Linked DNA regions of Homo sapiens. The protein of the gene in region 1 interacts with the protein of each later gene in a biochemical or structural test. Each region holds a gene or a part of one and is shown on either strand. Other genes may lie near its edges.

Region 1 (3,500 bases):
CATAAGAACTTTCCAAAGTCCCCTGGGGGAAGCCACTGGGACCAGCTAAGGCCTCTGCTACTGGTGGCTTCCAGCCTCCTCTGCCAGAGCCCCCAGGCTCCCTTTAGAGATGCCACATGCTTTTCAGAAATATCTCCTGGGTGCTGAGTGCTGGTTGATGATAATAGCAGCATTAAAAGGCGCATTTTCGAGGTCATTAAAGCTGACTGTAATCAGCTTCTTTGTTACAAACACCTCATTTCACACCCAAGTGCTCAGCTGGAAGGCAGGAGCGAGGTGCACATTCCGGGCCCCACTGGAGTCTGATAGGAAGGCAAGGGTGTGCGTGAGGACCCCGGGAAGGCTCGCTCTGCAGGAGCTCAGGGAGCAGAAGCTGGCAAATGTGGCCTCCCTGAGGCTGGTGGGTGTGGCTTACCTCCTTGCAGTTCTCCGAGTTTGAGAAGTGGATGAGGTCGTCGTTGTACATCTCCTGGGTGTTGATGATGTCGCTGTATTCCTTCTGGCTCAAGTCTTCGGGGTTGATGCCATTGGCTCGCAGGAACTCCTGGTAGGCCACGCTGAAGGCCTGGCCGATAGACTGGGCGATGAGCTGGGCCTGTGCAGAGGGCAGGCCAGCTGGAGACAGGCACGTGGCACAGGCTCCCCGCAGCCTCCTCAGCAGGGGGCTGCGGCAGGGCTGGGTGCAGGATGCACCCATAAGCCTTCAAGGGAGCCCTTGCTCGGGCTTAGAAGAACAAGAAAGAAACTGGGGGCCCTCCCTCATCTGATGAAGGCTGTCTCCCACCAGCACTCCACCGTGAGCGAACCCCAGTGTTGCCCTGAACCCCAAAGGGTCTACTCCTGACTGTCCCTGCCTAAGCTGTGGCACGGCCCAGATGCTCCAGGTCAAAGCTGTTTCAAAGAAAGTCTGGGACAACAATGAATTATTTACTACATGTCATATTTTTGTTGCTTTTTTTTTCTTTCGAGATGAGGTCTGGCTCTGTTGCCCAGACTGGAGTGGGAATGTAGGTGAGCACAACCACATCCAGCTAATTAAAAAAAGTTTTCTTGTAGAGATAGGGGTCTTGCCATATTGCCCAGGCTGGTCTCAAACTCCTGGACATAAGTGATCCTCCTGCCTTGGCCTCCCAAACTGTTGGCATTGCAGGTGTGAGCCACTGCACCTGACCCCATCTGTATTTCCTTTCCACTCATCTGATGCCGAAAATGGACTTTCAGTGTGTTTTCCGGGAGCATCGTGCTGCTAGTTGTCTACCCCGCATGTATTTATCGGTAGCAACAGAACCCAGTGCCCACTGGAGGCAGAGGGTGTGCCTGGCTGCTCTTCTAGGGATGTGTGGCTGTGCCAGGCCAGGCCTGCAAGACATGAGACCTGGGACTCCACACAGGCCCCATGAAGCACGTCACTTCTTTCTACTTCCGCTGAGCTGCTTCAGTGGACATCACCGACTCTGACATGGCAAAGGCCTGGACACTGAAACAGCACTCAGGGCCTGGCCGGCCGCCTGCTGGTGCGCAGACAGGAGACAGTGGGAGGTGAGGGCTGTACTGAGCTCCCGGAGCTCGCCAAGCAGGCTGGCAGCTGTGCAGCCCTGGGAGCGCGGCGGGGCTCTTGGCGGCCTTGGTGACGCCTCAGCCCACAGCGGGGCCTCCCGCCAGGCTCTGGGCTGTGTGAGCCCTCCTTATGCGCTGTCCTGCTCCTCACGTGCCTCCCCAACTGCCCTCAAGGGGGTCCTGCACGGGCGCCCCCAGCAAACTCCTACTCAACAGGATCCCAAAACAGGTGAAAACAAGGGCTTTGGCCTCAATTCCCTTCCCACTCTCCACGTGGCAGGATGTAAGAGCAGCAGATGAATGTATGCATTGGGAAAGACAAGCTGGGCCGGATTAGAAGCGCGCAGCAGGCGGCCTGCCCTCCAGCAGGCGTGGAACTGCCCTCCCTGACGGGCCCTAAGCCGTTTCCAGGACTTGCCGGTTCCCACGCCCAGCATCTCTGCCGCGCGCACAGACCCAGCTGGAGGCGCGACGCCCGGGGACCGCCAGATGGCGCCGCCGGGCTGGCCTGCGGAGTTGGCGAGCTGATGGGGCTCGGCAGGAGGGCCGGGGGCAGCGCCCGCGCAGGAGAGGGTCGGGCCTTTGGGAAGAGCGGAGGGCGGCCCCCAGGCCTCTGCTTCTGTCTCCGCCTGACGAGGCCACCTGGCTGGGAAGGACGGCCTGAGAGCCCTGGAGCCCCGGAGGCCCGGCTCCACCACCCACGGCCCTCGGACTCCACTTGGGCTCCCTCGGGCCACCGCCATTCTTCCTCCCCTTGGACGACATCCTCCGCCCCCGCGGAAGCTCCAAGCCCGGGGAGCCGGCTCCGCGGGGCTGCGCCTCCTTCCGGTGTCATCTGGGCCGCTGGTGTGCCGCCAGCCGCCGCCTCCCCGTCACTCCACGCCGGGTACCGGCTGCCTCCTGGGAGGTGTGGGGTTCAGGGGGCTCTCTCTGCGGCTGGCGCTTCAGAGAAGGGGTCGCCCTGCCGGCCCCAACTCGCAGCCAAGCCTGTGGGCGTTCACTGCTGTGAGTCCAGGAGCCCAGCCCAGGCCCCACCTCAGGGCTCAAGCGGCCTCCTGCAAGTGGGCTGTGGGCAGAGCCTGCAGGCGCTGGAGAGGTGGGGAAGAGGAGGCTGCTGTTGCTGGCAGGACCACCCTGCGGCCTCATCTACCCAATACGGCATACCCTGGCTTTAACCCTCCGCATCGGCTGCACCTGGGGGCTCTCAGTGCCCCTTGGAAACTCTCACCAGCTGACTGCCACCCTTCGCCACCGGGCCTGCTCCTGGCCTCATTCCGCCAGTACCTGTGGCCCATCCCCAAGCCAGGTCTCTCACACATCCTCGGCCCTCAGTCACACAGAAATACCCATCCAGGTTTCGAAGGGTCTCCGTGTAGCGGTGGAAGGAATGTGTGAGTGCGCTGTTGAAATGCTCTCTCCCTCCTGTAAATCTGCCATTGCGCCGAAGCACTTCAAGTGGACCCAAGTTCTTAGGAAGAAGATGACTGCGCCAGCCAAAGGTTTGAACCCTGTCTTCAGTTTCCATGCTGTATGTCAGGATCATGACAATATGGGGACCCTTCCCTATTGCCCAGGTCCCTGAGACAGCCTCAAGTCCTTATGTGAAAAAGAACGCCCTGGCCAACTGCCCCTGAAGGATAGATTTTTTTTTTTTTTTGAGACGGAGTTTCACTCTTGTCACCCAGGCTGGAGTGCAATGGCACGATCTCAGCTCACTGCAATCTCCGCCTCCCAGGTTCAAGCAATTCTCCTGCCTCAGCCTCCCACGTAGCTGGGATTACAGGCACGCACCACCAAGCTTGGCTAATTTTTTTGTATCTTTAGTAGAGACTAGGGTTTCGCAATGTTGGCCAGGCTGGTTTTGAACTCCTGACCTCAGGTGATCCACGCACCTCAGCCTCCCAAAAGTGTTGGGATTACAGGCATGAACTACCGTGCCCAGC
Region 2 (2,960 bases), on another chromosome or scaffold:
GTGGCTGAGGCCCAGGAGAGCCAACAGCTTTGTACTTGGATTCGAGGCTGTTTCTTTTGCTCTGGCTGTTCTCTGCTGACACTACCTGGAAAGGCACAGGTGTGTGTCTGACCTACATTCCAAGGTGCTGAGAGCCAGCCTTGGATCAGTCAGGAGCTGGGCTGAGTGACTGTACCTGGGCTTCCCAGACCCTTCCTGGGGCATGGGGTTGGGAGACCAGGAGAACCCTGGGTGGAGTAGGTCAGAGTCCCTGTTTCCTACCCCTTTCTGATGCTTTGGGAAATCTACGCCCAGATGATGTTCCATGCAGGAGGCAGCTCTTTCCTGTTGATGGGCCAGATCAGTGGCTCCCTCCTGGGACAGCGCGGGAAGGAGGAGATGGGCTACTTTCCCATGGGGAAGCCGAGGCAGGACCCTTCACACTCCTGCATCTGTACTCATGCAGCACAGACGTGGGGAAGTGCTAGCCCTGCACAGAGGGGGTGGCATCTGGGCAGGAGTCCATCTAGCTTCGTCTAGAACATCCTGAATGAGTGGCTGCCACTCTAGGCCTTGCAGACCCCAATGACAGGGAGGTCATCACCTCCACAGGCTGCCCATTGGAACAGGTGGTGGCTGGGAAGTCCTTTATGCTGAGTTGACCTCTGGGTCTTGGTGGCTATAGCCCTTGGTCAGCATGAGGACTGTCCAGAGCCTGTGCTGGGCGGTCATGGAGCATCATGGGTGGTTTGCTGAGTGCCCTTCCCATCTTTGATCTCATGGACAGGGGGACCCACAGGAGGGGGCTCCACATGTCCTGCTAGATGGGGCTGAAGGAGGCAACTTCTGAGTAGGAGATGAAGAGGCAGGGACTGGGGCTCACAGGTCTGACTCCCACTTGGCCACCACCTGGCACATGAGGGCAGGCTGACTTGATTAGGAGGTGGCTGGCCCCTGGCCTCAGAGAGACCCTCCTCTCAGGCTCTTAGGGTATCCTGGATGATGAAGGCTTTGCAGGTCCAAGCGGCTGTGATCCAGGCACCCTTTGGCCCTGGAGAAGCATGGCTTGGTGTGTCCTCTGGGCAGACCTGCGTAGTGCTTAGAGGTCCAGGGAAGCTGGGCTGAGACCCTGGATCCTGGGAGCTCATGGCCTCAAAGGCAGCAAGTCATGGTCATTGTGATGCAAATGTGGGCAGGGGACACAGGGAATGGGTCATGGGCACAGATGACCCTGTGGCCAGAATGGGGATTTTCCAAGGCTGGGCTGTGAATAGGTGGCCAAATGGGACTGTACCCAAGCCACCCCACCCATCTTCCTGGCCTCAGGTCAGGGCAGGTGTGAGGGGGGATGGCGAGAGCCTGGCTTTCACCCCCTCTGCTTTTGCAGGTACTATGAGAGTTTCACCAACTGCACCGAGATGGAGGCCAATGTCGTGGGCTGCTACTGGCCCAACCCCCTGGCCCAGGGCTTCATCACCGGCATCCACAGGCAGTTCTTCTCCAACTGCACCGTGGACAGGGTCCACTTGGAGGACCCCCCAGACGAGGTTCTCATCCCGCTGATCGTTATACCCGTCGTTCTGACTGTCGCCATGGCTGGCCTGGTGGTGTGGCGCAGCAAACGCACCGACACGCTGCTGTGAGGGTCCCGGTGAGATGGAGTGGGTCACACCTGGCAAGCTGGAAGAAAGTTCCCTGGGGATGGGAGAGCGGGTGGGTGCTGCCAATCTCCAGCTACTGTGGCCACACCCCACCTGGTCATGGGCAGACCCCTCCCTTCCTGGGCTGACCTGCTCCCTCGAGGCCAGCCTGCTCCCTGGCTGAGGCTCAGGCTATCCGCCCAAGCTCTTTGCTCATTCTAGGGCCAGTGGAGGAAAATGTGATAAGGCCAGAGCTTGTGTGCTGGGCACAGAAATCACCTGCTGCATCCTGTGCTCCGCAGGCTGGGCCGGAGCCTCTGCCCGCAGGTTTCTATGCTGTTTCTTAGCACAGAATCCAGCCTAGCCTTAGCCGCAGTCTAGGCCCTGCTTGGACTAGGACTCCTTGCTTGACCCCATCTCTGGTTCCTGCCCTGGCTCCTGCACCAGCCCCAGCTCCTGCCTACATCCAGGCAGAAAGATAGGCAGGGGCTCTTGGAAGACGTTCCGTGCTGTGACCTCCGAGCCCTCCTGGTGGGAAGACAGCTGGAAAGGCTGGGAGGAGAAGGGAGGGGCTGGGGGTTCCCAGGAGCCATGCGTGGCCTGCAGAGTCCATTCCATCATGATGCTGTGCCCGCTATGGGCTGTGTCCATGACCAGAGGCTGGAGTGGGGGTGTGTTAGAGCCCCTCACCGGGACTTGCTGTGCGGATGGGGCCTGGGCCTCCTTCCTACAGGGGCTCCTCTGTGGGTGAGGGGCCCTCTGGAATGGCATCCCATGAGCTTGTGGCCTCTATCTGCTACCATCTGTGTTTTATCTGAGTAAAGTTACCTTACTTCTGGAATTTCCTGTTTTGTTTCATGTTATTCAGAGAGACGGTGCATCTCTTGGGACTGATGAGTCCCCTGTACATATTGTACAGATAGGGAACAACTGAGGTTCTGGAATCCCAGAATGTCAGCGCTTAGGGGGCTCAGAGAGTGTTACAATAGGAGAGGGGCCTGACAGGAGGAGGGACTTGCCTAGCTACTCGCAGCCCCTTGGGCACTTCCCATCCCTGACCCATTGGTTTGAGGATGACAGGGAAGATTTCTCTCTCTTCTGTTTTCCCTTTGCAGCTGCCTTGGGCTTGCTAGGACCCCTGCCTGGGTTTTCTGGGGACCGAGAGGCCCTGGTCAGGTCTGGCTGGAGGCAGATGCTGGTCCTGGGGGGTCCCTAGAGCAGGTGGAGGGGCTTTATCTCCAGGCCTCTGGCCAGGCCCTTGTCCAGGCTCCAGTTCTGTGGACCTGTGTCTTTTGCATGTGGGCTGTTGGATCCAGGATCTTCTTGCTGGATCCCAGGACC
Region 3 (4,045 bases), on another chromosome or scaffold:
GAGGTTTCTGTCTTGCAGAGAGACTATTGGTGAAGGCCGGAGTCTATTTTAAGCAACTCCAAATCCACTGGGGTGTGAGGCGGGCCCCGGGTCCTGTCTTTCCTCTGCAGGGATGCCGCCCAGCACTGTGGCCTTCCTGGGGGTGGGCCCTGGGGATGGCTCATTTGTTAACCCAGGGGAGGCTCTTGAATTTGCAAAGCAGTTATCTGTCCTCTTATTTGTAAATGGGTAGCAAAGCCAACTCAAATACACAGATGTATATTTAGGGAGGGCTCTAAACAAAAGTTTTCTTCTGAGGGCTGAATCAACTACTTTACCACAAATTAGTTACACAAGAGGCTACTTCACTGGAGGAGCTTCCCTTCGCTGGAAAACCAAAACAAAACAAAACCCTTTAAGTACATTTTTCCTTTCAGTGTATCACAGCATCCTGAATTTCAGGGTAAACACTTTTTTATGTATTTCTCTTTTGCTTTTATAAAAAAAAAAAAAGAAGAAGAAGAAAGAAAAACACAACCAAGAAAAGCACCACATCTTAGCTCCGGGCGCCCCTGTGCCCTTCCCTCCAGCCCTGTTCACACGCAGGTGGGCGACTGGGCAGGGATCTCATATTTCCCGTGGTGAGTTTTCTGGGGATGCTGGGCTTTTTTGTAAATCCCACCGCTGGTGATCACGCTGGCCGGTTTTCTCCGGCTCTTCTTCTTTAACCTACGGCTGCACACCTGCTGCCAGGACTGCAGAGTCTTGGAGGTCCAAATCCACATCCCGCTGGTGATCCCCACCACCAGCAGCATAAAGATCTTCACCATGAAGATCTCCACGGCGGGGATGGAGGCGGCCATCAGGCAGTCCAGCGTTTTAGTCTGGTTGTTCATTTTGCACTTGTGCTGCGCCGCCAGGATCTTCCAGTAATCCATGTTGAGGCGTTCGTAAAAGTAGCAGGCGATCACACAGGTGGCCGGCACGGTGTACAGCACAGAGAAGAGCCCGATACGCACCATGAGCTTCTCCAGCTTGTCCGTGTTCTCGCCGCCCGTCTTCATCACCCTCCGGATGTGGAACAGGGCCACGAAGCCCGAGAGGATGAAGGACGTGCCGATGACCAGGTAGCAGGCCAGGGGAATGAGCACGAAGCCGGTGAGCGCGTTGACGTCCATGCTGCCCACGTAGCAGACCCCGGTGAGCTCGTCCCCCGCCACCCTGCGCATGACCAGGATCAGGATGGTCTTCACCGCCGGGATGGCCCAGGCTGCCAGGTGGAAGTAGCTGCTGTTGGCTTCGATGGCCTCGTGGCCCCACTTCTTGCCGGCGGCCAGGAACCAGGTGAGCGTGAGGACCACCCACCACAGCGAGCTGGCCATGCCGAAGTAGTAGAGGACCAGGAAGACCAGCGTGCAGCCGGTGCTCTCCAGTCCCTCCTGGATGACATAGAGCTGGCCGCTGTCCCGGTCGCAGGCGATGCTCTCGGCGCCGGCGAAGAGGCGGATGAGGTAGCCCACGGAGTAGACGCAGTAGCACATGGAGAGGAAGATGATGGGGCGCTCGGGGTAGCGGAAGCGGGCCGGGTCGATGAGGAAGGTGAGCACGGTGAAGGCGCTGGAGAAGAAGCACAGCACCGCCCAGATGGCCAGCCAGACCACTGCGAAGCGCTTGTCCTCGCGGCTCCAGTACACGTCCACGCCGGGCGTGCAGAGCGGCGCGCACGACGCGCTCTTCTCCACGTGGTGGAACTTGCCCGGGTTGTCGCAGCCGCCGCGCCCGGGGCCCCCGTCCTTCAGCGGGTGCTCCTGCGCGCTGTGGGGCCGCTGCGGCCGGAACAGCGGCGGGAACAGGCCCGAGCCCCGGGTGGGCTCGTCCGAGCCGTTGTTGGGCGCCTCCATGCACAGGTAGTTGGGGTCGTTCTTGTTGGGGAGTTTCCGGCAGTCCAGGGAGTCGGGCCACTTGAAGTTGAACTGCTCCATAATCGGGGAGCACTTGAGCCGGGCCTGCTCGCACATGACCCGGCAGGCGGGGATGGGGGTAGAGACCTGCTCGGTGCACATCGGCGCGTACAGCGAGCACAGGAAGAAGCGGAGGTGGCCGTGGCAGCCGTACTCCACCAGCGGCGCGAACTCGTGCAACTGGATGGCTGCCTCGCGCTGGTTCTCGTGGCCCATCAGGTTGGGCATACGAGTCATGTTGTAGCCGATGTCCTTGCACATCGGGATCTCGATGGGCTGGCATTTGCCGTCGCCCGGGCGCTCCATGTCCATGGAGCTGATGGCGGCGCACGAGCCCATCACCTGCAGGACCAGCCACAGGCGGGGGCCCGGGCGCTGCATGCTGGCGTTGGACGTGTCCTCGCGGGGAGCTCCGCGCCCCTCAGCGCCGCCGCTCCCGGGCACGGGCTGCTGCTGGCCCCGGCTCTCCACCCCTGCTCGGGCCCCCGCCCATGCCCGCCCGGCCTGGCCCGAGCGCTGCGCACAGCGCCCCCGGCTCGGCTCTCCGCGCCCGGCGTCCGCCGAGTTGGGGGCCGCGGCGGAGAGCAGCAAAGTTTGCAAACAATACCGGGAAGCGAGGGAAGCCCCCGGAGCTCCCGGCGCAGCGGCCCGGCGCGAGCTCCAACTCACGGCCGCGGCAAACTTCGGCCTCTTCTTGGAGCGCCCAGGTGGCGCGTCTGGAGCGGGCTGGCGGCGCGGGCACACCGAGGCCGGCCCAGCTCGCGGCGCCCCCACAGCCCGGGCGGCTCCTCCCTCCCTGCGCCGGCCTCGGCCGGGACCAGCCGGCAGCTGTTTCGAGGTTTGCGTCCCGGGATGAGAAGACTCGCAAAAAGGCAAAGGGGGGCAGAAAAGCCGAGCGCTGACAGGCCCCGCCCCCGGGCCGCGCGCCCCGCCCCGCCGCTGCTTTGCATGAGAAAGCGCAGCGGCCCGGGGCAGCCTCCTCCCCGCCGCCCCGCCGCGGGCTCCCGGGCCCCGCGGGGGCCGATCCCCCCCGGCCTGCAGCCCAGCCTGCGGGGGGCGCAGCGCCTAGTCCCGCCCGCGTCGCCCGCCAGCCCCGGGACAGCCCGCCTGGCGCGCGGGGCTCTGCGCGCTGCGACCCTCCCCGGCAGTCCCGCCCGCCTCTCCTCGCCCTCTCTCTGCCTGGCCTCCAACTTTGCCTCTCGCTATCCTCTCCGCCGGCGCCCCCTTTCCCGGCGGTCCCCGGGATGGTCCCCGGCACCCCGAGGACGCCGAGGTTACGGGAAGTTCGGGGACTGGCGGGAGAAGGGGTTTGGGGGTGGTCCGCGGCGAGGGGCGCGGGGTGCATCTTCTCTTCCTTTTATGGTGAGTCCCGGGCGGAGGGCGCTTTCAAAGGGAGGTGGGATTTGCGTTTTATAGCCTGGGCCATAAAGTAGGCCCTTGCTTGTAAACCTGCCCGCATCTTCCTGAGGCTGGGGAGGTGCTACCAGCCCCGGGCTCCGGGCTCCGAGGAGGGATTTTCTTTGAAATTTCAAAGAGACGAGCTAAGGGGAGGGGGAGGGGCTCGAGAATCCGGATTTTAGGGCCGCTCATCCGAGGTCTCCTCTAAGAAGGCGGGAAGGGGGAGGGGCGGGAAGCGTCCCGGGACTTTGAACACCGCCTCCCACCCCGCGGGAAGTGCGGGCTTGGTTTGTACCGCGGTGACCCCCGCCCCCTCCGAAGCCGCAGAGCCGGGGCCTCGCGCCAGCAGGGCTGGAGATGCCTTCTTGGCGGCTGAGTTTATTTATTATAGGAAGTCATTCGCTCGTGGGGTATTTATGTGATTTGGCGAGTGATGTGCCCGGCCAGCGCCCTCCTTGGCTGCAGCCCCGCAGGAGGACCCGGAGTAGGGTGGGATGGAGTGGGTCGTGGGAGGAGCGCGTCAGCGCCTGCCCGGGGACCCCCAGCTCCCGCGAGGACACGGAGGCGCGCACGCCGCTCGGTTTTCCTGGAAAGTGGAGAAGGAGCGTCCTGGGCAGGTCCTCTGAGCTCATCCCCCCTCGGATTGGGGCGGGTCTGTGACGGGGTCACTTAGGACACGACGTCCCCCCGCCATTCCCTTCCCCCGC
Region 4 (3,392 bases), on another chromosome or scaffold:
TTCCCGGTGGGTGTCCCTAAGCCAGGGCTCCAGGCCTCTGCACAAATCCTCTTTACACAGGGCTGGCAGGGGCGGGGGCAGGGGTAGGCTGGGAGCAGAGCTTCGAGCTGCACTTGTGACCCTTTCTAGGAGCCACCGGCCAACTCCACTATGGGGTCCAAGGAGGAACTGTAGCTGCCCCCGTGTCACCCCCGCCATCACTGCTGGACAGGAGCCACCCCCTTGGGTACCAGAGGGAGCTGTGCATTGTGAATAAAGAGTGAGCTTGGTTCTGGACTCTGTGTGCCTGGTCCCTCAGCAAGGCTGGCCTGATGCAGCTCTGCCCAGCTGGGGGCTCCAGGGCAGGAAGGTGGAGCACGTTCCTGCTCTAGCCCTGCCAGCCTCTGAGTCACAGGTGATCCCCATGCCTGCTGGAGGCCAGTGTGCCCTCCTTTACCACGGGGGCTGAGGCTGGGAGACCTAGGCCAGGCCCCACCCGCAGAAGACACACCACAGCCAGGGCAGGTTCAAAAACAGTTTTATTTCATTATTATCCAAGTACCTTTGAAAAGATAATTAATTGTACAAGTGTCATCGCATGAAAAACAGACTCGGGCAGCCCCTGCTGGCCTAGCCTGAGAAATGTACATATTTACACGGGCCCTCAGAAAGGAGGACCCAGGACTGCACAGCCGGCGGCTGGAGGCAGGTGCAGTGCTCCGTCGCCGATTCACACAGTGGCAGGCAAGAGACAAGCTGTGTTGAAGGCACTCGGTGGCGCGTACAATTGACAGAGGCCCTGCAGGCCTCTGCATCCGGGCCTGGGCCCCACCCAGACCTGGGTACGTGGGCAAATCCCAGAGGGAAAGTAGATCCCAGCACACGTGCCCAAGGGAGGTGCCGGGGGATGGGGGGGGGTCACCTGAAGCTGGCAGCAGGGACCTCGGCTGCCTCACTTGGGCTGGGCCCTCCAAGTATTGCTATGAGGAGTGGTCCAGGCTGCCTCCTTGGGGGCAGGACAGAAGCTTGTGGACCACTTGGAGGGACCCCCTACCTGCCTCTAGACACGGGTAGACCACAGGGATGGGTGGTACACCCAACACTGTTCCCCATCGGGCTCCTGAGTACGAGGTCATCTGCCTGGCCGTGACACCCGTGCCCGCCAAGGGCCTCGCCTGGCACAGCGGCCAGCCCACCAGCCTATCAGTCCACCTTCTCCACTTTGCCGATGATCTTCTCCTCAAAGACGGGCAGGACGGCCTCGTCCTCTCGAACCTCCTCAAACACCACCCCACAGTCAAACTCGTCGCTCACTTTCTTGAAGTAGTATCTGCAGGACGGAGGTGAGGAGGGCAGTGAGCAGGCAGCACCGCAGATGGGAAGGAGGCCTGTGGCAGGGGACGGCGTGTCCACACCCCATCCCGAGGAGCCTCCTGTCCATGCCCCACGGCCCCCACTGCATGTGCGCCCCCTCCCAGGGCAACAGTGAACAGTGCAATGACCACATGTGGGTGAAGTGGGCAGCCATGGGGGGTGAGTTCACTGCCTGCTGGGAGCACCCCACATCCCCCTGGGAGTACCTGCCCCAGCCTCTCAGGAGTTGCAGGGGGGAAGTGGACGGGTGTGGGGTGTCTGCTTCCCAAGGGCTGAGCCCCGTCATGGAGGTGACCCCAACTGGGGCCCTCCCTCAGCACCACATCTGCAGTCATGGGGTGTTTGCACAGTGGCTTGTGGACGGTGGGAACCACCCGCCAGGCTCTGCCAGGCTCTTGGGGTCAGGCCCCCTCTGCTCACCGCCCAGTGCTCACTCGGGAGCCTCCAAGGCTGGCTGCACGCAGGGCCCTGCAGGGCTGAGTGGCCCAGGGCGAATGAACCTTGGTAGGAGGGGGCTTGGCTTTTCAGTCAGGCAAAAGCACATGAGTCCAGAGCCTGGAGACAAGGTCGGCCTAGGGGAGCCTAACACAAGGTTCAGACCATCGTCGTCTAGGGGTCTGGCCTCTGTTTTCCCACCCCGAAGATGAGGGCCCTGGACGGGGGTCCCTTTGGACCCTCTCAGTCCTGTGGGGCCGAAAGCCTGATGCCACCCTCAGCCTAGGGCTTGGAGAAGTGGCTTTAGTTGCAGATGAGGGACATGAGCTGAAATGGCCGGAAGCCCTTTTTCTTCTTTTTTTTTTTTTGGGCGGGGGTAGAGACAGAGTCTCGCTCTGTCACCCAGGCTGGAGAGCAGTGGCGTGATCTCAGCTCACTGCAACCTCTGCCTCCCGAGTTCAAGCAATTCTGCCTCAGCCTCCCAAGTAGCACACCTGGCTAATTTCTTTAGTATTTTTAGTAGAGACGGGGTTTCACCATGTTGCCCAGGCTGGTCTCGAACTGCTGAGCTGAGGCAATCCGCCCACCTCAGCCTCCCAAAGTGCCAGGATTAGGACGTGAGCCACTGTGCCCGGCTGGAAACCCTCTTTTTCATACCGTTGGGCACCCACATACTCGTGCGGGGAGGGGGCACCCCAGCCCTCACACTCACCTGTAGCTGCCCTTTTTGGTCAGCAGCTCCTTGAACTGGCCCAGGGTGACAGCGCGGCCCCTCACCAGGGTGCGGTAGGGGATGGGTTCCCCGCAGAAGTAGTACGCCACAACGATGCTGTCACACGGCTGGGCACTCCCGCCGCCCACCTTCCTCTGCGATCTTGTCCTGGGGAAAGAGATGCAGCGGTGGTACCTGGTTTTGGACTGAGGTCCCACAGGGTCCCTCCTGCTGGCCTCAGGCTGCCAGTGTAAGGCGGGGCAGGCCTGCAGGGGTGAGCAGCACCCCATTCAAACACCTGGGGCCCGCAGCCCCCGCACAGCATCTCAATCTGGGATCTAGTCCGCTAGCAGTGGAGTCGGCTCCGCTCACTGGGAGCACGAAGGTCTCCCTGCTGCCTCACAGCCCCACCCTCGACTGGCCAGGGCCTGGCTGCCAGGTGCACTGCAGCTCCCACCTCTAGGATGGCAGGGCAGGCTGCAGGGCTCCTATCTCAGGAAGACCTACGGCCCCCAAACCTTAAAAACATCTGAAGGGCAGGGATTGGACAAACAGAACTGTGCACGATTTCTGGATAAGCCTGACCCCGCAGCGAAGTTTGTCGGAGGACTGGGGCGGGGGTGGCCAGCAGGCCCTTCAGAGGGGGCAGGGCTGGCACCGTCTCCTGCCCAGGCTGAGCCGGGCCCTCCTCTGACAGGTGCTGTGCTTCCACAGCCGTGCCGGGATGACGGGCGGGGCCTGGTTGCTCTCGCACCCCCCACTCGGCTACCCCGCCGCCACCTGTCCTTCAAGTGACTCCAGAAGCTGCCCCTGGCCCACTGGGGTTCAGCCCTTGGGCCTCCTCCTGGCTGGGTGCACCAGAGGCTTCCAGAGCCAACACCAGGGCAGGAAG

Evidence for each region. The genes of interacting proteins can lie anywhere in the genome.
Region 2: the proteins of APBA2 (region 1) and RAMP3 interact in a test that uses a peptide from one of them, tested with the Homo sapiens proteins (one large-scale study listed by IntAct).
Region 3: the proteins of APBA2 (region 1) and FZD10 interact in a test that uses a peptide from one of them, tested with the Homo sapiens proteins (one large-scale study listed by IntAct).
Region 4: the proteins of APBA2 (region 1) and AXIN1 interact in a test that uses a peptide from one of them, tested with the Homo sapiens proteins (one large-scale study listed by IntAct).

The regions. Positions count from the first base shown.
Region 1 is NC_000015.10:29,102,474-29,105,973, reverse strand, and holds part of APBA2 (amyloid-beta A4 precursor protein-binding family A member 2), read right to left. Parts: intron 596-3,500; coding exon 416-595; intron 1-415. UniProt on the Homo sapiens protein: Putative function in synaptic vesicle exocytosis by binding to STXBP1, an essential component of the synaptic vesicle exocytotic machinery. May modulate processing of the amyloid-beta precursor protein (APP) and hence formation of APP-beta.
Region 2 is NC_000007.14:45,181,791-45,184,750, forward strand, and holds the end of RAMP3 (receptor activity-modifying protein 3 precursor), read left to right. Parts: intron 1-1,366; coding exon 1,367-1,622; 3' UTR 1,623-2,460; downstream 2,461-2,960. UniProt on the Homo sapiens protein: Accessory protein that interacts with and modulates the function of G-protein coupled receptors including calcitonin gene-related peptide type 1 receptor (CALCRL), calcitonin receptor (CALCR) and G-protein coupled estrogen receptor 1 (GPER1).
Region 3 is NC_000012.12:130,161,219-130,165,263, reverse strand, and holds the start of FZD10 (frizzled-10 precursor), read right to left. Parts: upstream 2,801-4,045; 5' UTR 2,322-2,800; coding exon 576-2,321; 3' UTR 1-575. UniProt on the Homo sapiens protein: Receptor for Wnt proteins. Functions in the canonical Wnt/beta-catenin signaling pathway.
Region 4 is NC_000016.10:286,940-290,331, forward strand, and holds the end of AXIN1 (axin-1), read right to left. Parts: intron 2,669-3,392; coding exon 2,501-2,668; intron 1,310-2,500; coding exon 1,183-1,309; 3' UTR 501-1,182; downstream 1-500. Other genes in the region: PDIA2 (protein disulfide-isomerase A2 precursor), read left to right, coding at 1-6, 130-174. UniProt on the Homo sapiens protein: Component of the beta-catenin destruction complex required for regulating CTNNB1 levels through phosphorylation and ubiquitination, and modulating Wnt-signaling.